Linked DNA regions of Homo sapiens: region 1 is linked to region 2. A link means that fine-mapping ties the variant in region 2 to the plasma level of a protein whose gene starts in the linked region. Region 2 holds a variant in brackets. A gene starts in the other region. All regions are shown on their forward strands.

What was found. A credible set is the group of variants that fine-mapping cannot tell apart. PIP is the chance, under the fine-mapping model, that this variant and not a neighbour inherited with it causes the effect. Protein levels are from antibody-based Olink assays in UK Biobank. Linkage for the fine-mapping came from a reference panel and not from the study's own genotypes, which makes the PIPs less certain.
Region 1: CRYBB2 starts here. The variant in region 2 is the best candidate, but not a certain one, in a credible set for the plasma level of the CRYBB2 protein (UK Biobank, PIP 0.77).

The regions. Positions count from the first base shown.
Region 1 is chr22:25,212,851-25,220,499 of GRCh38, forward strand. It overlaps CRYBB2 (crystallin beta B2), which reads left to right and starts at 6,789. Exons shown (of 6, transcript NM_000496.3): 1 at 6,789-6,816.
Region 2 is chr20:33,872,693-33,890,057 of GRCh38, forward strand. No RefSeq gene overlaps it. Among named protein-coding and RNA genes, the nearest start is that of CHMP4B, 70 kb to the left of the region's middle. RefSeq lists enhancers at 10,511-10,630, 10,811-11,070. The variant G/A (reference allele first, on the strand shown) is at 6,680.

The DNA of each region.
Region 1 (7,649 bases), not on the chromosome of region 2:
TACCAAGCATTCTTTACCATTTTGGAAGTTAATGTCACCCATGGCAATGCTACATGAGTGAATGAAAATGTCTAACGCATATTAAGTTTAATATTAGCTTCCTGTCTAAGTGTATGCATTGTAAATAGGAATAATTGCCTAACTGCTTTCTTACATCATCTGTTTGAAGCTTTTACATACCAAAATACATATTTTTATACATTCTATCCTTATTATCCTTTTATAATACAGTTAGAGTTAGGACATTTTATTATTAATTTATTTTGAAAGCATGCACGTAGATGGGTTACATTATCAATTTTATTTCAAGAGAGTAAAAGGGCTGTTACAAAAAATTGTCGTAAGAAGGGAGTGTTGTTTCTGATAGCTATGAGAACACCTTTTGATGATCTCAGAGCCTCCTTCCAGCTCTGACTCTTTTGTATCTAAAAGTTAAATATTGTTTGTCCAAGGGGAACACCAAGACCTATTCTCCTCGTGGGAGCAAGAAGATGAAGTGGAGAGGAAGGTTTGAGTCCTTTCTCTCTATGTATCTGTCAGGCTATGCTGCAGTAACAAACAGCCCCCAATTCTTGGTGGTTGAAAACAACGAAACTTATTTCTCACTCATGAAAGATGTCTAGTGCTGGTCAGCGGGGGGCTTTTCTCTACAGAGTCACTCAGGGACCCAGGCTGGTGTGGGCTCTGCCATTTTGCAATGTTGCCATCTCAGGACAGCAGAAGAGAAGAGAGCACTAGAAAGTGTGGCTCCTGTAATAAGATGATTTCACCTGGAAATTACACCAGTCATGTTTGTTCAGAATCCACTGACCAGAATGAGTCACATGACACCCCCTAATTTTAAGAAGACCCAGTGATAACCCGCTCACTAATATACCCTGAATTGCCTGCCTTCCTTTCTCTGGCTCGCTTCCCCACTCCCTACTTCCTGATGCCCTCTGGGATCACTTTCCAAATAAATTATATGCACCTGAACTTGTTGTCTTAGCGTCTGCTTCTGGTAGAGCCCAAATGAAGACACCCCTGCTCTTTATCATTAATTAATTCAGTCTGTCAATACGTATTTTCTGAGCACCTACTATGTGCTAGATCCTATGTAGGCACTGGGGGCACGAAGATGACTGAGCCATGGCTCAGCTCTCCACGACCTAGCTCATTGGCTAGATGAGCAAACTACCCAGGTCACATCAAAAGCCTTTGCTTTTGGGCCAGGTGCAGTGGCCCATGACTGAAACTCAAGTACTTTGGAAGGCCAAGGCAGAAAAATTGCTTGAGGCTTGGAGTTCGCGACCTACCTGGACAACACAGTAAGACCCTATCCCTAAAAAATTTTTTTAATTAGCTGTGCACAGATGTGAAAACCTGTAGTCTGAGCTACTCAGGAGGCTGAGACAGGAGGATCACTTGAGCCCAGCAGTTGGAGCCTGCATTGAGCTGTGATAGCACCACCATGCTCCAGCCTGGGCAGCAGAGCAAGACCCTATCTCAAATTTTTAAAAAGGCAAAACATTTTGAGATCATAGGAACCTATGGGCTGTAAGTTGCACCAAGGTGGGGACCCTATCTGTATTGCTCCCCACTGAGTTCATAGTTGACACATTTGCTTGAAGTAGAAATGAATAATGAATTAGTAGAAAGAAACAGGCAGGTTGCTGACGGTCTCTGTCTTGGCACCTACTTTGAGTGTGGGAGTGAAAAGAAATAAAAAGTCTTTTAAAACATTGCCATCCACACAGATGTAATAATAATGAATAGCATAAAAGCTATAGTTACTGAGCGCTTTCTATAATATTTGTAAGAGCCGCTACTGAGGGCTTCACATGATTGGCTCATTTACAAAGGGTATAATTACAAATACTATAATGTCCATGGGCCAAAATATTTAATTCTTCGCAAGTGTGGGAAACTGAGGTAAGAGAAGAGAAGTAGGCTAGGCTGAAGGTTTTGGAGTCTACAAATCCTGATCTCTGAGTTCAAATCCCAGCTCTACCACTTCGTGGCTGTGAGCCTTTGGGCAAGAAAGTCTCCTCTCTGAGCCTCACTTTGCTTATCTGTAAAAATAGGAATAATAAACATCTCCCTAGCATGTTTTACCACTCCTATCAGCCAGTGAAAACCCTGACTGCTTCCTCAATGAGAATAATAGGTTGGTGCAAAAGTAAATGTGGTTTTTCCCATCAAAAGTAACGCCAAAACCCATGATTACTTTTGCACCAACCTAATACATGGTGCAGGGACCAAGTGTTGGGAACAGGCCCCCAAAATCTGGCCATAAACTGGCCCCAAAACTGGCCATAAGCAAAATCTCTGCAGCACTGTGACATGTTTGTGATGGCCATGATACCCACGCTGGAAGTTTGTGGGTTTACCAGAATGAGGGCAAGGAACACCTGGCCCGCCCATGGTGGAAAATCACTTAAAGGCGTTCTTAAACCACAAACAATAACATGAGCAATCTGTGCCTTAAGGATATGCTCCTGCTGCAGATAACTAGCCAGACCCATCCCTTTATTTCAGCCCATCCCTTTGTTTCCCATAAGGAATACTTTTAGTTAATCTATAATCTATAGAAACAATGCTTATCACTGGCTTGCTGTTAATAAATACATGGGTAAATCTCTGTTCGAGGCTCTCAGCTCTGAAGGCTATGAGACCCCTGATTTCCCATTCCACATCTCCATATTTCTGTGTGTGTGTCTTTAATTCCTCTAGCGCCACTGGTTAGGGTCTCCCTGACCGAGCTGGTCTTGGCACCAAGGACCTCATTTCTTATGGGGAAATTGAGGCCTGGAGAAGAAAAACTTCACTAAATTCCCAGAGCTCAGTAGGAAGCTTTATAGTTTAAAAGTTAAGAACGTTTATCTTGAAGTCAGACTGATGTAAGTTCAAGCACTGGTCCTACCACTTCCTGGCTGTGTGACCTCGAACAAGTTACTTAAGCTCTATGAGCCTTAGCTTCCTTATCTGTATTAGGGGACATTAATAATACCTACTTCAAAGATAGTTGTGAGGATTGAATTAATGGAACCAGACAGTTTCAGGGCTTAATCCATAAAGCCTAGTCCTACTACTCACTAGCTGTGCAAATTTGGGCAAGTGGCTTAGTCTCTCTGAGCCTCAATTTTCTCTTTTATAAAATGGAATGATCAATAAATACAATACTTACATCTTGAGTTTGTTGGGAGGATTAAAAAAAGATGAGTATGGACAGTGCCTGACTCATGTCAAGCTCTGATACAATCGAAATGTTAGGAATTCTTTCTTATTTATAAGGACACAGCCAGGTCTTGAATCCATTCATTTACTCAACAAATATTAACTGAGGTCTATTATGGGCTGACCTGTGTCCATAAAAGATATTCCAAAGTCCTAACCCCCAGTACCTCAGAATGTGACCTTCTATTTGGAAATAGGGTCTTTACAGAAGGAACCAATTTGAAACAAAGTCATCAGGGTGAAGTTGCCTAGTGAAGTCACCTAAGCCAACATGACTGGTATCCTTATAGGCACAGAAATTTAGACATAGAATCAGCCATGCACTAAGGGAAGATGATGTGAAGATACAGGGAGAAGACAGTCACGTGATTAAAGTGATGCACCTCCCATCCAAGGAACATGAACAATTACCGGCAAACACAAAGGGCTGGGAGAGACAAGGAAGGACCCTCACCTAGAACCCCTGGAGCAGGCATGGCCCTGCTGACAGCTTGATGTCAGGCTTCCAGCCTCCAGAATTACACAACAATAAACTTCTGGGGTTTTTTGGGGGACATTTTTGTGGTAAAATACTGCATAGCATAAAATTAACCATTTTAACCATTTTTAAGAGTACAGTTCAGTGGCATTGTTATGGGACCATCACCACTATCCATCCCCAGCTTTTCCATCATCCCAAACAGAAACTCTGTACCCATTAAACAATAACTCCCCATTCCCCGCTCCTCCCAGCCCCCAGTAACCTCTATTCTACTTCCAGTCTCCATGAATTTGCCTACCCTAGGTAACTTATGTAAGTGGAATCATACAATATTTGTCCTTTTGTGTCTGGTTTATTTCACTTTGCATAACATTTTCAAACCTCATCATGTTGGAGTCAGAATTTCCTTTCTTTTTAAGGCTGAATAATATTCCATTGTATGGATAGACCACATAGTGTTTATCCATTCATCCGTTGATGGACATTTGGGTGGTTTCCATCTTTCGGCTATTGTGAATAATGCTGCTATGAACATGGGTGTGTAAATATCTCTTCAATTCCCTGCTTTCAATTCTTTGGGGCACGTGCACAGAAGTGGAATGGCTGGCTCATATGGTAATTCTATGTTGGATTTTTTTTTTTTTTTTGAGACAGCCACACTGTTTTCCGTAGTGGCAACACCATTTTACATTCCCAATTTCTGTTGTTTTTAAGCCACTTAGTTTGTGACACTTTATTACAGCAGCCCTGGGATTTATTTTATGTTATTTATTTATTTATTTTCTTTGAGACAGAGTTTTGCTCTTGTTGCCTAGGTTGGAGTGCAATGCCATGATCTTGGCTCACTGCATCCTCTGCCTCGTGGGTTCAAGTGATTCTCCTGCCTCAGCCTCCCGAGTAGCTGGGATTACAGGCATGTGCCACCATGCCCGGCTAATTTTGTATTTTTAGTAGAGACGGGGTTTCTCCATGTTGCTCAGGCAGGTCTCGAGCTCCCAACCTCAGGTGATCCGCCTGGCTTGGCTTCCCAAAGTGCTGGGATTACAGGCGTGAGCCGCTGTGCCCGGCCAGCCCTGGGATTTTAAAACAAGTACCTACTATGCGTCAGGCACTGGGCTCTGGAGATACCATGGTAAACCAGGGGGACAACTTCTTTGCTTTTGTGGTGCTTATCTTCTCATTGGAAAGACAGAAAATAAATGAGTAACAGAATGTTGGGTAGTGATGAGTGCTGCAAAAGGAAAAGCCCAGCTAGGGGGCTGGGGCATGTGTGTGTAGTGTGTGTGCATGCGTGTGCATGCATATGTGCATTAAGAAAATGAGAGACAGGGGAAAGCAGGTATACTTGACCCAGTCTCCAAGCCTCAGATTGGATCAAGACACAGCCTGGGCTGCAAGGAAGGTGTGTGCACTAAAGAAACATGAGTAAAGGCCGGGCGCGGTGGCTCACGCCTGTAATCCCAGCACTTTGGGAGGCCGAGACGGGCGGATAATGAGGTCAGGAGATCGAGACCATCCTGGCTAACACAGTGAAACACCGTCTCTACTAAAAATACAAAAAATTAGCCGGGCGTGTTGGCGGGCGCCTGTAGTCCCAGCTACTAGGGAGGCTGAAGGAGGAGAATGGTGTGAACACGGGAGGCAGAGCTTGCAGTGAGCTGAGATCGTGCCACTGCACTCCAGCCTGGGCGACAGAGCGAGACTCCATCTCAAAAAAAAAAAAAATAGAAAAGAAATGTGAGTAAAGGCTGGGCACCCATGTGGCAGCGATGGGGCCAGTGGTAGGGATCTAAGAGCAACTCACTCTAGGACAGTGGTTAAGAAACAGGCCGGGTGCAGTGGCTCATGCCTGGAATCCCAGCACTTTAGGAGGCCAAGGTGGATGGATTGCCTGAGCTCAGGAGTTTGAGACCACCCTGGGCAACATGTCAAAACCCTGTCTCTAACAAGATACAGCAAAAAAAAGAATTTAGCTGGACCTGGTGGCGCACACCTGTAGTCCCAGCTACTGGTGAGGCTGAGGCAGGAGAATCGCTTGAACCTGGGAGGCAGAGGTTGCAGTGAGCCGAGATCACACCACTGCACTCCAGCCTGGGTGACAGAGTGAGATTCCATCTCAAAAGAAAGAAAGAGAAAGAAAGAAAGAGAGAGAGAGAGGGGGAGAGAGAGAGAGAGAGAGAGAGAGAGGGGAGAGAGAGAGAGAGAGAGAGAGAGAGAGAGAGAGAGAGAGAGAAGAAAGAAAGAAAGAAAGAAAGAAAGAAAGAAAGAAAGAAAGAAAGAAAGAAAGAAAGAGAAAGAAAGAAAGAAAGAAAAGAAAGAGAAACAGCCAGGGGCCTTGAGAATAAAATGCACTCTCCATAATTGGCCTCCCTGGCCCTGCAACATCAGGCCCTGCCCACCTTGGCCACCTGGCACAGGCCCTATTTGTCACATGTCATGCTTTAGCTTTGTTAACCTGTTTTCAGGTCTTCTTGAAATACACCATGCTGGTTCCTTGTATATGGACCCTTTCTGCTTGGAACTGTCCCCCCACCCTGTTCCCAGGCTTCCTCTTCTCCATCCCTGAGGGATGCGCTACCTCCCAGGAGCTTTTCTGAATGGCCTGGGCTGGCGTAGGTCCTCTTCCTGACACTCCCCTGGAACAGAGATTGTCACCAAGTGGATGCCCAACAAATATTTGTTGAATGAATAAATGGGTAGATGAATGAAGCCCAGACTCTGCCAAACCACCCTTCTTTACTTGTTCTTCCCCAGGCCCACTGAGATGTTCCTCTGTCTGCCATGCCTCACGGCCTGACTGACCGTACCAGTGAACCCAGCGTACCCCTGGCCCTGGCAGCCGGACGGCTGATGCATGCAAAGCGGGCATCTCCTTGCCCAGCCGCCTGACCGCCCTGGCGCGGCCGAATCTGAAAGCTAATGACATTATTGTGCAGAGACACAATGTCTGTGGGCATTTGCTGACCCGAGCTTTGGTGAGAGCTTAATCCAGCATTCTCACCCTGCTTTTCGCAGGAGCACAGCGGTCACTCATCTTGGCACCGGCACTTCTGGGGAAGGTATAAATGCCACCTCCCGCTGGCCGAGCTTCACGGCACTCGCAGGGGCTGGTGTCACTGGTAAGATTGCCTCTCTTGCTTGTCTTCCCTTCTTTCTCTCATCCTCACCCCTGTCCGCAAGCATGGGAGCACCCAGATTCTGACAAGTGACTTTGGGCAGAGACTTCAATGCTGTTAGCCTCAGTTTTCTTTTCTGGTAACTGGGAAGGGGGTTAAAAAGCCTTCTTTATTGTAAGGATTCAAGAGAAGTTAGGGGATCATCCAGCACAGTGCCTGGCACACAGTGGGCATTGGGGCAATGTTCTTTATTATTAATATTAAACAGACTATCAGCATCCTTGTTTCGCCAGTCGCTGAGGAGGAGAATGTAACTGAGGGTTTTGCAAGAATCAAACCAGTGACAGTTCAGCATTGTTTCTAGGTGGGTGAGTCAGTTTTCCTCCACATCTGCAATTAGGGGGCACCCACTCTGTGCCTAGCCTCTGGGAGTGCTAGGGGATAGGATGCAGCCACAGGTATGTGACAGGTCCCAGCAACAGGTGATTTCAATGCCACTAAAGCATGGTAGAAATGACTCTAATAATGCCACAATTGCTGCCATTTGCTGCATGCTGAGTGTGTTCTGGGACCACGGCCAAGTGCTTCCGGTTTTATACATTACATAATTGAATCCTCACAACCTGTTCACAGGTATTATTAGACATCATTACTGTCCCCATTTTATAGAACAGGAAGTTGAGGCATAGGGAGAGGATGAGACCTGCCCAGAGTCTCAATTCTGGCAGGCAGCAGAGACTGCTCCTGAACTGGACCAACTGAGCTTCTTCAGTCTGTGAACACTCAGGACTGGGAAGTGATATGGCAGGACCTCAGGCACTCTGACAAGCCCAGAG
Region 2 (17,365 bases):
TCACGCCTGTAATCCCAGCACTTTGGGAGGCCGAGTCAGGCAGATCACGAGGTGAGGAGATCGAGACCATCTTGGCTAACACGCTGAAACTGCATCTCTACTAAAAATACAAAAAATTAGCCGGGCGTGGTGGGGGGCGCCTGTAGTCCCAGCTAATCGGGAGGCTGGGCAGGAGAATGGCGTGAACCTGGGAAGCGGAGTTTGCAGTGAGCCGAGATCATGCCACTGCACTCCAGCCTGGGCGACAGAGCGAGACTCCGTCTCAAAAAAAAAAAAAAGAAAAAAAAGGAAAAGCACAGACATAACAGTGAATTGCACATTGCCTTTCCCAAATATGCTCACATTATGTTCTGAAAAGTTCCCTCTGCTCCCTGCCCACTCCATCCCACTCCCCAGGGAGTAACTGATTTCTCTTTCCAGCATGGTCCAAAGGGCTTGTCAGGGGTTTGCTGTCAAGTGAGTGATGTAAACCCTCCCCTCCACTAGCCCCAGTAGGCATCTGTAGTGTTCACTGCTCACTGGCATGTTTCAGGATAAACTCTTTTGTGGAAACAAGAAAAGGAGAAAAGGAGCTTGGGCCTGTGTTGCTGGGAGTTCACTTGAGGGCCCCTGGAGCTAGAGAAGGTGGGACAAACTGTTATCTACATCACACAGCCCTCCTCAGAGGGGTGTCCTATTGTCCTCATTTTACAGAGTTGGCGACTGAGGATCAGAGAGGTGACTCTCCTAAGGCCATGGAACTGATGAGTGGCCGAGCTTGGATTCAAACCCAGGTCTGCCCAGCTTCAAAGCCCAGGCTCTTGCTCCTATTTTTAGGAGAAGATACAGACCAAGTTTATTTTACATAGGATTCAGAGATTCAGGATCCTGGAGTTCTAGTGACCATTTGACAGATGGAGAGACTGAGGCATAACCAGGGCTAGAACCCAGGCCTACTGCCCCTGAGTCTGAAGTTTTGACCATCAGCAATCATTCAGGGTGAAGGGATCTTGCAGGAAAGATGACAACTTGACGGGGCCAGGGTTCAGAGGTGTGTGCAGATGGGAGGTTCAGAAGCTTCCCTAGAGGCTGCAGCCAATTCCCCCCACCTCTCCCCTCCATCCCCCACATAACACACTTGGCCCCCTGTGAACCCATGGTTCCTGCTCAGAGCAGGCGGCCAAAGCAGTGTCTTTGCTGCAAGCGAGGGACTGAGCTGTTCAACGAAGAGTCATGTCCTTCATCTTGTCCCCTGCATTTTACACCACCATGTAAAATTTTCCATTAATTCCTCGGAATAAAATGTAGTGGCTGTTAATTTTTGATGCCTGGGAAGTAGCCAGCTGAGCGCCTTTTTATGCCTGAAACTATTTTCTACCATTAGAAGAGTGTAATAAAAAGTTTTCTTTCTTTGATTTTATTTTTTAATTAGATGAGGGGGTTTAGGCAAGTCTGCTGTCAGAGCTGTGGCTGGCAGCTGGAAGCCCAGGACGTGGCAGAGGAAGGACACAAACACCTTCACTCTCAAATACCTTCCCCACAGCCAGGCCTCGCCTCTGAGCCAACCAGGGGGGCCAAGGTCTGGCCCAAATCATAAAAAACCCCGAATCTTCATTGCTTTTCCAGAAAGGCTGTTTGCGAGAAGTAGCATGCTTCTGCGAGAAGTTTCTGTCCTGGGCTTTGGCTTCATACAGACGTGTGAAATTCCTCCTCTGTGTCTCTGAGTCGAAGTCTTGGATCCTCAGCTTAATAGCTGAGGGACTTTGAGCAAGTCCCTTCCCCTCTCTGGGTTTCTCCTCTGTAAAAGCTCCCAGGGTTGTTGACTAAGGAGACATTGATTAAAGGAGAAATGGGTGTCAAGCATCTAGGCCATAGTAGATACCCTGGAAACAACGATGATGGGGGAATGTGTTTAAGAGGCGGGAAAATGCCGGGCATGGTGACTTATGCCTATAATTCCAGTGCTCTGGGAGGCTGAGACAGGAGGATCACTTGAGGCTAGGAGTTCATAGACCAGCCTGGGCAACATAGTGAGATCCTACTCTAATTTTTTTTTTTTTTTTTTTGAGACAGGGCCTCACTCTGTCATCCAGGCTGGAGTGCAGTGACATGATCTCAGCTCACTGCAATCTCCACCTCCCAGGCTCAAGTGATCCTCCCACCTCAGCCTCTCAAGTAGCAGGGACCACAGGTATGCACCACCACATCTGGCTAATTTTTTCTATTTTTTGTAGAGATGGGGTTTCGCCATGTTGCCCAGGCTGATCTTGAACTCCTGAGCTCAGGTTGATCCACCCACCTAGCCCTCCCAAAGGGCTGGAATTACAGGTGTGAGCCACTGTGCCTGGCCTACAAAATAAAAAAATAATTAACTGGGCATGGTAGTGCACCCCTGTAGTCCTAACAACTTGGGAGGCTGAGGTGGGAGGATTGCTTGAGCCCAGGAGTCAAGGCTGCAGTGAGTTATAATTGTGCCACTGCACTACAGCCTGGGTGACAGAGTGAGACCCTGTCTACAAAAAAAAAAGGAAGTGAGAAGGCTTCAGGCTTCTTCATGTTCCTTGATGGGGTTGTGGTGGGGCCGGGAGGAGCTGGGTCTAGGCTGGCAGGTGCAGGCAGAGATTTAGGGGAAGGCTGGGCGCAGCCTCACCTGCCTGCAGGAGGAGACCTGTGGGGGCAGGTCCTGCTTCGCCACTGGCACTTCCTCCTTTCAAGAGTGTGTGTTCCTCCTCTCTTCTGGGGGAATCGTCCCTGGCCGCTCCCCACTACCCCCTCGCCCGCTTTAGGATCCAGACGATGCCATCATCTCATTTCATACCCAGACTCCTGGGTCCATCCTTGCTGGGAATTTTTAAACTGGAGACAGGGAAGAGGAATCCCTTCCTCTCTGGTCATGTAGTCAGAAAGACAGGAGCCCAGAGCTACTGGTCACCATGCCCCCCACGCTCACCCCATGGAGAAGCCTTTCTGTGCAAAGACAGGAGGGCTAGGGACATGAAGAGAAGCAGAGTGTGAGGCTCAAATCTCATCAGCCTGGCGAGGCTATAACTCAATTAAATGCAAATCTCGGTGTTGCTGTGCAGGTGTTCTGTAGCTGTGCTTAACATCTACAATCAATTGACTCAAAGTAAAGGAGATCATCCCTGGTAATGTAGGTGGGCCTCATCCAATCAGTTGAAGGCCTCAAGAGCAAATCAGCTTCCCCAGAGAAGAAATTCTGCCTCAAGATTGCAGAATAAAATCCTGCGTGAGTTTCCAGCCCGGGGCCTGCCCTTCCAATTTCAGACTTGCAAACCCCCACAACTGTGTGAGCCAATTCCTTAAGAGAAATCTAGCTGTCTCCTTTCCGTGTCTTCTATTGATTTTGTTTCTCTGGAGAACCCTCACTAATACACAGAGGAAAGAAGGAAGAGAAGGAGAGGGGATCCTGACAGTGGGAGGCCCTGTTTCCTCTTGTCCTGGAGGCCACCACCTCATTTGTGCACCACTGGGTGGACACTGCCAGGGCCCTGCCCACTTGCCCTTGGGCTATGCCTTTGAGGTGGGGACTTCTTTTTTTCTTTTTTTTGAGACAGAGTCTCACTCTGTTGCCCAAGCTGGAGTGCAGTGGCGCGATATTGGCTCACTGCAAGCTCCGCCTCCCGGGTTCAGGCCATTCTTCTGCCTCAGCCTCCCTAGTAGCTGGGACTGCAGGCGCCCGCCACCACGCCTGGCTAATTTTTTGTACTTTTTTTAATTAGAGACGGGGTTTCACCGTGTTGGCCAGGATGGTTTTGATCTCCTGACCTCGTGATCCGCCTGCCTCGGCCTCCCAAAGTGCTGGGATCACCACCGCGGGTGCAGTGAGCCACCGCGCCCGGCCGAGTTGGGGACTTTCAATGCCTGCAGGCTTTCTCTGGCGGTCTCCCAGGGACGGGCCTGCCTGCTTCTCCTGCGCTCTCACCGAGGGGCCAACTGGACTTGCCTCCCAGAAGACGTCTGTCTGACCGCAAGAGTGGCAGTTGTGGGGGCGCTGGACGGACCAAACACCCTGTGCTCCGGCTTACAAACGGCGACGAGTCCATCAACCTCCTCTGGGTTAGAGTCCTAATTCGCAGCCCCCACCCACTGCTGAGCTCAGGGCTCTGGAAACTGACTGCCTGATTCAGCCAACAGGATACATGGTGCTGGAGCCTGTGCTGATGAGCCCATTAGGGGAAATGGGGGCTCCCAGGCACGATGAGCTATTCCAGGTCATCTCACCAAGCCTGGGCCCGAATACTCCCATGGAGCCCAGTGAGGAGGGCAGCGGGACGCTACACTGACTTCTTCCCTTGCAAAGGTGCGGGGTGAATCTGTCTGGAGCAGGGCGGGCAGAAGACATCTTCCTAAGATGTCTTCCACGGGGAGCGGTGGGCCTCTGGGATGCCCAAGGTCTCTGCCATCACTCTCTGGTCTCTACACTTTCAGAGGGATCGTGGAGCACTGAATTGCATGGGATCTTAAGATTTCATCTACTCTGGGTGTTTTCAAAACTTTTTTTTTTTTTTAAGAGTTGGGGTCTCGCAGCCTGGCGCGGTGGCTCACGCCTGTAATCCCAGCACTTCGGGAGGCCGAGGTGGGTGAATCACAAGGTCAGGAGATCGAGACCATCCTGGCCAACACGGTGAAACCCCGTCTCTACTAAAAATACAAACATTAGCCGGGCATGGTGGCGGGCGCCTTGTAGTCCCAGCTACTTGGGAGGCTGAGGCAGGAGAATGGCGTGAACCCGGGAGGTGGAGCTTGCAGTGAGCCGAGTTTGCATCACTGCACTCCAGCCTGGGGGACAGAGCAAAATTCCGTCTAAAAAAAAAAAAAAAGAGAGATGGGGTCTTGCTTGTTGACCAGGCTGGAGCACAGTGGTTTGATCATAGCTCACTGCAGCCTGGAACTCCTGTTCTCAAATAATCCTCCTGCCTCAGCCTCCCAAGTAGCTGGGACTACAGTTGTGTGCCACCATAGCCAGCTCCAAATTTATCTTTAAAACTTGTTATAGGCCAGGCACCATGACTTATGCCTGTAATCCCAGAGTTTTGGGAGGCTAAGGTGGGCGGATTGTTTGAGCTAAGGAATTTGAGACCAGTCTGGGCAACATGGTGAAACCCTGTCTCTTCAAAAAAAAATAAATAAATAACATTAGCTTAGTATGGTGGTGCGTGCCTGTAGTCCCAGCTACTCAGGAGGCTGAGGTCTGATGATCACTTGAGCCTGGGAGGTCGAGGCTGCAGTGAGCCATGATTGCACCACTGCACTCCAGCCTGGGTGACAGAGTGAGACTGTGTCTCAAAAAAACAAAAACAAAAACAAAACTTGTTACAGAGCCCTTTCTCCAAGGAATATCTTACATCAAAGCCAGATATATAAGAGAAACCATGAGGGACCGACTCTATTTGAGGTGGGGAACTGGGAGACCCAGCTCTTTGATGGCTCCCTTCACTGTGGCTGTAAGACCCTTGGAGAGATCAAGTTCAGCCACCTCATTTTCCCAGTCTGCTTCCACCTGCCTAAAGTCACCCCCAAATCTGACACTACATGGCACATGTCAGTGGGATGCTCGAGGAATAAAAGCCACGTGGGTGTTCTGCTGTTGCTCACCAACCACACTGCAGTGCTGGGAGCCGTATCCTGGCAAGTGTTCAAGGTGGCGCTAGGGAACAGAGAAGGGGTTGTGAGGGTGTCGTGGGCACAGGCCCCGGAGGGACAGTGAGCTTAATAGGAGTGTGTGTGTGTGTGTGTGTGTGTGTGTGTGTGTGTGTGTGATGGTGGTGGTGGTGGTGCTGGTGGTGGTGTGGGGATTACAAACAGGAAGGAAATCTCATTAGATGGGCTGGGTCTTGGTCCAAAGACCAGATAAACTAGGATGTCACAGGTGGGGACAGAGTCCAAGATTCAATGTCTTCAGAACTCTCCTGATCAATAGTTATGAGATTCCATGATTCACAAAGACAGGGACCATGTTTCATTTATTTAACACATATTTATTTACCTCTTTCAAACAACAAGCTGGGGGAACCGATCTTACTGATTTAGTTAGCATCTATGGGAAAGCTGTGGTGTCAATCAGGGCTCTTTTGGTTGAAAATGAGAGAACATTATAACTCATTCCCCGTCCCTCAATGAATTGGGACTTTGTGGGCACCTGAAACTGAAAAGTTCAGGAGTATCTTCAGGTTGAACTTGATCAAAGACTCAAATAACATGACCAAGATGGGATTCACTTCTCTATCTCTTTAATCATTTTCCTTCTTGTTGAAGCACATCCTTTAATCTTTTGGTGAGGGCCTGTGGGTAGTAAACTCTAAATCATGTATATCTGGAAATATATATATATATATATATTTTTTTTTTTTTTTTTGAGACAGAGTCTTGCTCTATTGTCCAGGCTGGAGGGCAGTGGCACAACCTCCACCCACTGGGTTCAAGCTATTTTCATGCCTCAGCCTCCTGAGTAGCTGGGACTATAGGTGTGCACCACCACACCCAGCTAATTTTTGTATTTTTAGCAGAGACAGGGTCTCGACTTGTTGGCCAGGCTGGTCTTGAACTTCTGGCCTCAAGTGATCCACCCACCTCAGCCTCCCAAAGTGCTGGGATTACAGGCATGAGCCACCACGCCCAACCTGGAAATATGTTTTGATCTCACTCTTCAGTGACAGTTTAGCTAGGTATAGAATTCTAG[G/A]CTGACAAGTATTTTTTCACTGTGTTTGGAGATATTAGTCTACTCCTTTCTGGCTCCTATTGTTGCTAATTAGAAGTCTATTTTTTAGTCTAATTGTTTCTTTGAAAGGAATCTGTCTTTCCCACCCTTCTGGCAGCTTCAAAAGTTTTCTCTTTACCCTTAAAGTTGTCCAAGTGCAATTAGACATGCCTAAGCGTAGATTTTATTTATTTGTTTATTTTTGAGACAAGATCTGGCTCTGTCACCCAGACTGGATCGCAGTGGCATAATCATAGTTCACTGCAGCCTTGACCTCCTGAACTCGGGTAATCCTCCTGCCTCAGCCTCCCAAGTAGCTGGGACCACAGGCACATGCCACCACACCCAGCTAATTTTAAAATTATTTGTAGAGACAGAGTCTCCCTATATTGTCCAGGCTGGTCTTGAACTCCTGGACTCAAGTGATCCTCTTGCCTTGGCCTCCCAAAGTGCTGAGATTACATGTTTGAGCCACTGCACTCAGCCTAGATTTATTTTTATCCCACTCTGAACTATGGCTTTTCTCTGTGAAGACAGTGCTTTCTTCAATTTGAAAAATTCTTATATATTATATTTTACTATATTTTATTTTATTTTATTTTATTTTTTTGAGACAGAGTCTCACTCTGTCACCCAGGTTGGAATGCAGTGGTGTGATCTCAGCTCTCTGCAACCTCCGCCTCCTGTCTCAGCCTCCTGAGTAGCGGGGATTACAGGTGCCCGCCACCATACCTGGCTAATTTTTGTATTTTTTAGTAAAGACAGGGTTTCATCATGTTGGCCAGGCTGGTCTCGAACTCCTAACCTCAAGTGATCTGCCTGCCTCAGCCTCCCAAAGTTCTGGGCCATGCCTGGCCCCTATTATAGTTTCCTTTATTGCTTTTCCCACATCCTCTTTACTGTCTCTTATTGGAATTCCTATTCCTGTTGTACATCCTATTAGATATATAATGGATCATTTCATTTCATCCTCCATCTTAACTTCCCCTTTATGTTTCACATTTCTTTATCTCTCTCTGTGCTGTATTCTGGGCGAACACCTCTGATAGGTGTTCTATAGCCCCCAATACTTCTGAGTGTGATTATATTGGAGATAGGGTCTTTGAAGAGGTGACTAAGTTAAAATGAGGCTATCAGGGTGGCCCCTAATGCAATCTGACTGGTGTCCCTATAAGAGGAAATGTGGATGCACCAAGGGGCAGGAAGGATGAGCATGCGCAAGGGAGACCATGTGAGGACACAGCAAGGAGGTGGCCGTCTGCAAGCCAAAGAGCAAGACCTCCGATAAAACCAAACACCAGCACCCTGATCTGGGACTTCTAGCCTCCAGAACTGAAAGTTAATAGATTGCTGTTGCTTAAGCCACTCTACTGTTTTATTATGACAGGGCCAGTAAATGAATATGACAGACTACTGTCAAACCCACCTATTGAGTTTCTCTCTTTCTTTTTGCTTTGTTTGTTTTTTCAGTTTATCTTGGGTGACTTTTTTTTTTCTATGGCCCAGGGCAAGACACCCACTTCTAGGCTGCAGCCCAAGGTTATTGGGCAGTTTTTCCAGTCCCAAGAAGAAACAGCTGACTTCCAGCTTTTTCCTGATGTAGGGAGCCTAGTTTCAGCTGGAGGGCTCTCACAGGGCCAGGAGCCTTGTCTTTCGTCCTCACAGAGGCATTCAAACCCCAGTGCCATTCAGAAGTCTGGATATGGCAGCCCCAGGTGACTTAGTGGCTCCATGAAGCTGCCAGGGACTTGGACACCTTTGATCTTCACATTTTAGCACCCTTGGGGTGCGGCTTTAACCCTCTTGTTGCACTTCCAGGCATCTCATCTCCAAATGCCCCATGTCTTCTGTCTTTTGTTTGCTTCTTTGTTTTGAGACAGGGTCTCACTCCATCACCCAGGCTGGAGTGCAGTGGTGTGATTACAGCTCACTGCAACCTCAACCTCCCAGGCTCAAGTGAACCTCCTACCTCGGCCTCCTGAGTAGCTGGGACTACAGGTGTGTGCCACCACACCTGGCTAACTTAATTTTTTTTTTTTTTTTGAGACAGTTTCACTCTTGTTGTCCAGGCTGGAGTGCAATGGTGAAATCTCAGCTTGCTGCAACCTCTGCCTCTTGGGTTCAAGCGATTCTCCTGCCTCAGCCTCCCGAGTAGCTGGGATTACAGGTATGTGCCACCACGCCCGGCTAATTTTGTATTTTTAGTAAAGACAGGGTTTCACCATGTTGGTCAGGCTGGTCTTGAACTCCCGACCTCAGGTGATCTACTGACCTCGGCCTCCCAAAGTGCTGAGATTACAGGCATGAGCCACCGCACCCGGAAATTTTTTTTTTTTTTTTTGTAGAGACAGGTCACGCTATGTTGCCCAGGCTGGTCTCAAACTCCTGAGCTCAAGCGATCCTCCTGCGTCTGCCTACAAAAGTGTTGAAACTACAGCCACAAGCCAACGCGCCCGGCCTTATGTGTTATCTCTTGCCACATAGTGGCCTCTGCTCCAAGGGAAGCGGGAAGAGTGAGTTTTTTCAGTGGTACCTTTCCTCCCCATCCTGAAAACAAATGTGATTCTCCTCCTAAAGAAGTAGAGCAAGTGGGTGTAGAGTTGTTAACATGCAATGTCTGCCACATAAAACATGATCCCCATTTTGGTGAGGAAATCACAGCCTGGAGAGGTGTGGTGATTTACACAGCCTGGATTCGATTGCACTGAGCCTGCCCCACCCTCACCCTGCTCTGATTCAGGGACCCTGGCCTGGCCCTCATCTTTGGTGGTTGCTGTCGTCAAGGCACTGGCCTTGCGTGATGGATGAGCAGGCAGCCTCATTAAACACAAACCCTTGTTGGTTTCCCAAAGCCCACAGGAGCAGCGAGGCCCGGGATCTGGGAGCAGGGAAGCTGAACAGGACCCCATCTGTCCTGTTCCCTCCGGCTTCTGCTCAAACAGGCATTTGTCTGCCATGGCAAGAGGGCAGCCTCAGACACTTCATCTCTGGGCAATTAGGGGGCTGCACGTGAGAAGAGTAATGACTGGCCAGAGGGGATTTATCAGGGGCCAGTGTGGCTGGGCGGGGCTCAAGATTTGACATCCACCTCTTTTCCGAGGGGAAGGAGCTGGTTAGCATCCCTGCCTGGCAGTGGAGCCTCGTTAGCTCTGCCTTCTACTGTCCCTTCCCCCTCCAACGCTCTGCTCCCCACCCCACCTCCTTGTCTCTGCCCTAGATCAGAGGCCAGGCACTAGCTGGATGGTCACACCTGCCTCCTCCATGCTGCCCCCTGTGAACCACTCTCCGCACTGGCTGCTCACAAGTCTGATCACGTCACACACCTCCTCCCTACCTTTAAATCCTTCCATGGCTCCCTACTGCCCAAATCATAAGCAGCTGTTGTGTTCGGGTGGTCCTAGGTGACCAGCTTCCCCACGAGCGATTTCTCTCCTTTGGTTTGATTCGTGTCAAAGATGAGTCTTAGACACTGCCTGATGCTCAAACGGTTTATCCTTTTCTTAAAAAAAAAAAAGATGGGATCTTGCTGTGTTGCCCAGGCTGGTCTTGAACTCCTGGCCTTAACCCATCTTCCTCCCTTGGCCTCCCAAAGTTCTGAGTTACAAGCATGAACCATGGTGCCCGGCCTCAAGTGATTTATTTTGGCTGTGCTGTTACGAGACAGACATCAATGACACGGGCCAGATACACTTAGGAGGTCAGAGGACCAGCTGACCAGGAGGGTCTCTGTGTAGAGACCATCCTCAGAGTTTGGGGGATCCTTCTCCCTTCCCTAGACCTGGGTTCAGTCTAGGTTAGTCGCCAGGTGTTTCTTTCAAAAAAGAAGTTTAAGCTATTCTTGTAAGGGGAAGCTTTGTTTCAAGGTTTATGAAAGTTGCATCTGTGCTGAGGTGGTCTTGTTTTCTGGAAATCCCCTGGCCAGGGTTGGAAATCCTGGGGCCAGGCTGTATCAACTGCTAAGTGACACCTGGTGTCCGGCCTGTGAGATGCTTAAGTGGGTCCTATGGCTCTTGTTAATCTCACAGTTGCAGTATGTCTCTTTTTATACTATGACAGCAACCTCAGCCCTGGTGACCTCAGCTCCCGCGCCGCATCCTCTGTACTCTTGCTCTTCAATTTTTAAGAATGAGTTTCATGATTATGGGTTTCAAAAATTACATTCAGGACTGCGTGTGGTGGCTCATGCCTATAATCCCAGCACTTTGGGACGCCAAGGTGGGTGGATCACTTGAGGTTAGGAGACCAGTCTGGTCAACATGGTGAAACCCTGTCTCTACTAAAAAAAATAAAACTTAGCAGGGCGTGATGGTGCACACCTGTAATTCCAGCTACTCAGGAGGCTGAGGCAGCAGGATCACTTGAATCTGGGAGGTGGAGGTTGAAGTGAGCCGACAACATGCCACTGCACTCCAGCCTGGGTGACAGAGTGAGACTCCATCTCAAAACAAAAACAAAAACAAAAACAATTCAAAAGGCACACAGTAAAACAAGGCTAACTCCTGCATCGTCCTCACCTGCCTAGTCCCCATCACCTGCCACATGCCTTAGTTCCTTGTGTATCCTTCCAGTTTCTTTATGCAAATGTAAATAGGACAAATATGTCGTCATATTTACCACCCCCACACATGCTTTATATACAAATGGTAGCTTATCAGGAACGTGGTTCTATACTTTCATTTTTGCACTTAATACATCTTGGAGATCTTTTTGTATCTGCAGAGAGAAGGCTGCTTCATTCTCTGGTACAGCTTGACCATCATTTCCTTAGCCAGCTCCCAGGTAGTGGATGTTTGTGTGGCAGGTGCTGCTGCTGCCCTGTCCCATATCTCCCACCTACCAGAGCTCACCAGCAGCCCTTTCATTTCTCCAGGCTTTAGCCCACACAGGTCTCTCTGCCTGGGATATGCTTCTGCTTCTTCATCTCAAATCAAGAGTCTGGCAGCCCCGCCAGAGACACTAACCTAACTAGTTCAGGCAGGGCTAGCACTTTGGGCCTCAGGGTCTCCCTTACCTCCTCTGCCTCAGGAATGATCACAGTGGATTAAATCCTCTCCTTATCTGCCTGCCTGGCTGGGAGCACCTGGGCAGGGGTCAGAGCTGTGGGGGGGCAATGGGGAAGATGAGTCAGATTCATCACTATGTCCCAGCACCTCTTACCACATCCCATGGCCTCTAGTGAAGCAGGAGAAGGATTGTATAAAATCCAAACTCCTTCCCGTGGCCTACAAAGCCCTGCTGACCCCGTCCCTGCCTGCCATCACCCCCAACCTCAGGTCCAGCCAGTGTGGCCTTCTTGTTCCTCAGAGACCTCAAACTCGATCCTGCCTCAGGGCTTTTGTTCTTATACTTTCCTCTACTTGGACTCTCTTTTCCCCAGATCTCCTGATTAGACCTCAGCTCAAATGACACTTCCTCCAAGAGGCCTTCCCTGACCACCTTGACTAAAATATCCTACTCACCCCTGCCAACTTTGGGAACCCAAGGCAGGAAGATCAGTTGAGGCCAGGAGTTCAAGACCAGCCTGGGCAACATAGTGAGATCCCATCTTTGAAAAAAAAAAAAAAACACCCCCACTTTCTTAGCAGTTATGGGATGAATTGTGTCCTTCCCAAAGTTTATAGGTTGAAGCCCTAACCCCGAGTACCTCAGAATGTCACTGTGTTTGGAGATAAGGTCTTTAAAGAGGTGAATAAGTTAAAATGAGGCCAGTAGGGCTGGGTCTTAATCCAATCTGAGTGGTGTCCTTTTTGTTTGTTTGTTTGTTTGTTTTGTTTTGTTTTGTTTTTGAGACAGAGTCTTGCTCTGTCTCCCAGGCTGGAGTGCAGTGATGCGATCTTGGTTCACTGCAACCTCTGCCTCTGGGGTTCAAGCAATTTTCCTGCCTCAGTCTCCCGAGTAGCTGGGACTAACAGGCACGTGCCACCACTCCCGGCTAATTTTTTTTTTGTATTTTTGGTAGAGACAGGGTTTCACCATGTTGGCCAGGCTGGTCTTGAACTCCTGAGCTCGTGATCCACCCATCTCGGCCTCCCAAAGTGCTGGGATAACAGGCGTGAGCCACTGTGCCCGGCCTGGTATCCTTTTTAAAAGGGGGAAGCAACACAAGGGATGAGGGTGCACAGAGGGAAGGCCGTGTGAGGACATGGGGAGGAAAGCCGAGGAGGGAGGCCTCCAAGGAAACCCTGCGGGTGCCTTGGTCTTGGACTTGCTGCCTCTGGAACTGTGGGAAAATAAATTTCTGTTATTTGAGCCAGGGGTCCTCAATCCCCTGGCCATGGACCAGTACTGGTCCATGGCCTATTAGGAACCTGGCACACAGCAGGAGGTGAGTGGCTGGTGAGGGAGAGAAGCTTCGTCTGTATATACAGCCGCTCCCCATCACACGAATGGCTGCCTGAGCTCTGCCTCCTGCCAGATCAGCGGCAGCATTAGATGCTCACAGGAGTGTGAACCCTGTTGTGAACTGTTCATGCGGGGGATCTAGGTTGCATGCTCCTTATGAGAATCTAATGCCTGATGATCTGTCACTGTCTCCCGTGACTCTCAGATGGGACCATCTAGTCGCAGGAAAACAAGCTCAGGCTGGACCTGGTGGCTCACGCCTGTAATCCCAGCACTTTGGGAGGCCGAGGCAGGTGGATCACGAGGTGAGGAGTTTGAGGCCAGCCTGACCAACATGGTGAAACCCTGTCTCTACTAAAAATACAAAAATTAGCAGGGCACGGTGGTGAGCGCTTGTAATTCCAGCTACTCAGGAGGGTGAGGCAGGAGAATTGCTTGAACCCAGGAGGCGGAGGTTGCAGTGAGCCAAGATCGCGCCATTGCACTCCAGCCTGGGCGACAGAGAGAGACTTCGTCTCAAAAAAAAAAAAAAAAAAGGAACACAAGCTCAGGGCTCCCACTGATTCTACATTATGGTGAGTCATATAATTATTTCGTTGTATATTACAGTGTGGTAATAATATAAATAAAGTGTACAATAAATATAATATGAATCATCCCCAAACCATCCCCCCCACTATCCATGGAAAAACTGTCTTCCACGAAACCCGTCCCTGGTGCCAAAAAGGTTGGGACCACTGATTTAAGCTACCCAGTCTGTGGTACTTTGTTATGCAGCCTAAGCTGACTCTACATCTTCCAGCGCATTTCTTCCAATGCACTGTCTGACATGACTTGTTTACTGTCTGCCTCCCCGTACAAGGGCAAGTCATTTAATTGTCTTGCTCATGGTGTAGCCCCAGCTCCTACAACAGAGCCTGGTACATAGTAGGCACTCAATAAATACTCACAGGATGAATGAGCAAATGCCAATTCCATGAAGCAGAGAGTGTCATATGAAGATCCCCCCAACGCTCACAAGCACATGTGTGAATGCACCCACATGTGTGCTCAGACATGTACGTGGATAGCTGGGCGCTCACACACATGCATCCTGCCCTGCATCTTTGCCTCTGACCATGTCCACTTCATGGCAAGGGCCATGTACACAGCCTGCAGGCTCAGCGGATGGCATGACTGTGCCTGTTTCAAGCTGGCTGTGCCTCTGAGCTGCCCTCAGAAACCCACGCCTGGCGCTCCTGTCAGGAGTGTGCTTGGATGCTAGGCCTCCCAGAGGGGTCAGAAGATGGGGAAGAAGAATCTGTTTGCAAATGGAAATCAGAATAAGCTCTACCAGGCACAGAGAACAGGGAAGGCAGTGGGCAGAATATGAGTTTTCCCAGCCCCCCACTGGGGGTCAGAACAATCAGCGAGTTCCTTCTGTGCCAGCCACATGACAAGTACATTATGCCCTGTGAAGTGGTGGGTTATTCACTCCCATTTTACCGATGAGAACACAGGCTGGTGTATCCCAGCATTTTGGGAGGCCGAGGTGGGATGATTTCTTGAGCCCAGGAGGTCTGGTTTGCAGTGATCTGTGATTGTACCATAGCACTCCAGCCTGAGTGACAGAGTAAGTCCCTGTCTCTCTCTCTCTCTCTCTCTCTCTCTCTCTCTCTCTCTCTCTATATATATATATATATATATATATATATATATATATATATATATATATATATTTATGTACACACACACGGGATTGGAGAGACCAATTCAATACTCCCTCAGTATTTTTTTTTGAGATGGAGTCTCACTCTGTTGCCCAGGCTGGAATGAAGTGGCTTGATCTTGGCTCACTACAACCTCTGCCTCCCAGGTTCAAGTGATTCTCCTGCCTCAGCCTCCTGAGCAGCTGGGATTACAGGTCCCCCGCCACCACGCCTGGCTAATTTTTGCATTTTCATTAGAGACGGAGTTTCACCATGTTGGCAAGTCTGGTCTCAAACTCCTGACCTCAAGTGATCTGCCTGCCTTAGCCTCCCAAAGTGTCCCCCAGTATTTTATGGAGGCCCTAGGTATAACACTGATTGCTCACTTATTTTGTTGAAGCAGATGATATGGTGATTAAGAGCCTCAGCTTGGGAGCCAGACAGCCTGGGTTCAAATTCTTGCCCTGATAATTACTAGCTGTGTGATTTTGGGCAAATCACATCGCCTGTCTATGCCTTCCTTTCTTTATCTGTAAAATAGAGTTATAATGGTACCTACTTGCTTGAGTTAATACATGTACAGGGCTTCGAATGGGGCCTGGCATGTAGTAGGCACATTTCTTGAGCAATAAATGTTAGTCCTTATTCCTTATTTCTAATTGTATCAGGATGTTCCCACCGAATCCTGCTCCTCCTCCAGGGCTGTGCCAGCTGCCTCTCTTTCAGGCCAGACCTTGAACAATCTTTGCTGTAAGAAGGTATCACAAACTGGAAGGCTTACAGCTACAGGAGTGTATTCTGTTAGTGCTGGAGGCCAAAAGTCTGAAATCAAGGTGAGGGCCGGGCCTGCTCCCTCTGAAATCTTTCTTGCCTCTTCCTAGGGGGATCCTTCCTTGCCTCTGCCTAGCTCCTGGTGGTTTCCCAGCAATCCTCAGCGTTCCTTGGTGTGCGGGTGCGTAACTCCAGTCTCTGCCTTCCTCATCACAGGGCATTCTCCCTGACTTCACATAGCTGTCTCCTTAGAAGAACGCAGTTCTATCAGATTAGGGGCCCATTCTACTCAAGGATAGCCTCATCTTTAATTACTAATTAAACTTGCAAGGACACCATTCTCAAATCAGATCACATTCTGAGGTCCATATCTTTTTTTTTTTGAGGGGATTGGAGAGAACAATTCGACCCATAATAGCAAATCTCTCTTGTCCCTGGGGAAGCTGTGTCTTTAAAAAGAGCTAGATGGGGAATAAAGAGATTTCAAAGCCAACAAGAAAAATGGTCTTGAAGTGGATGCTCTGGTTCTCCGTGTCTCTGGTTTACTGGCTGGACTGAGCTCCCTGGGTAGTTTTATTCTCCGATCGCTGCCGTCACCCATATTCTGTCTTCCCTGTCCCTTCATGGGTTGTACGGACTGCCGATCACACTGGAGCATGAGGGAGTCCCGGCCAGTCTGGCCCAGTTGAAAGCCCCACCTCTCCTCTGGGTTAACATGGAGGAGGGAGGGCACAGGGAAAAGGTCTCTCCCCTAATAGCTTCCTGTTGGGGACTCCCTCACCTCTTGTGGCCAATGCCATCTCTCAGGCCATCCCTGACTGGCCATCAGGGATTTCTGTGTCATTAGGGCCGGATGGTGGCTCTGGCATGGGGTGCAGGTCCTTGGGGGATCCTTGGAGGCCTCTTTTCCTTGCATTCCCACAGCTGACTCTGTGTGCCCTCTTTTTCTCCCGTAGCTCCCCTTCCCTGCCTGTTTTCCTCTGGGCCCCCTTGCCTGGTCAGCAGCCCTCTTTGCTGGCAGAGCAGCAAGATGTCTCCCTCCCATGATGCCCTCTTGGCTCCTGGAAACCTCCCACTCCCTTGCTACCCAGTTGCTGGGGCTGGGGTGTGGGCTATTCCACGTGTCCTCTCTGCCTGCCCATATTTTTTCATAGTTCATTCATAGTTCTTCTCCCCAAAAAGAGAGGCATGAGAGCAGGGGAGCCTAGGCAGACCCTCCACTGGAGAATGAGGTGTTGGACCCTCCTAAATGCAGCTCTGCTTTCTGAGATTTCACTTGGAACCCCCTACATTTGGCTTGAATTGAGGAAGTGAGAGTCATTCTCCCTTCCCAGGGGAGGGAAAAGTCTTAGTGCCACCTGCCTTCTCCTCAGGCTGGGACACTTAACTCCAAAGACCTCCCCCAACTCCCCACCTGCTTATTTAAAGGGGGCCCAGGGGAGGTAGAAGAGCTGGTCTGGCTGCCCCTTAATAAGTCCTGAGGTGCCCCCCACCACCATCTTGGTGGTTATCTTGGAAAGGAGTTCAATGTCCTTTTGTCCTCTGCCCTGGGTCACATTGCACTTAACAACCCTTGGCATCTGCACTTCAGCGCATCCTCCATAACCTGAAGACTCCAGAAAGGAGGAAGGGCTAAAAGTATGGGATAAGCTACCCCCAAATTATTGGTGCCTCCTCTGTACCAACTTTGTAACAGGTGTTTGTCTCCATGGACCCACTGGATGCTCTGTGAGCTCCATGAAGGTCCCATTTTCCCAGGACCAGGCCTGGATCCTGGTACATTATATATACTCAAGAAAACATCTGTTGAGAGAGTGACTGTGGTGGCTTTAGTGGTTGTCCTAAGGTTTACAGTATACATATTTAA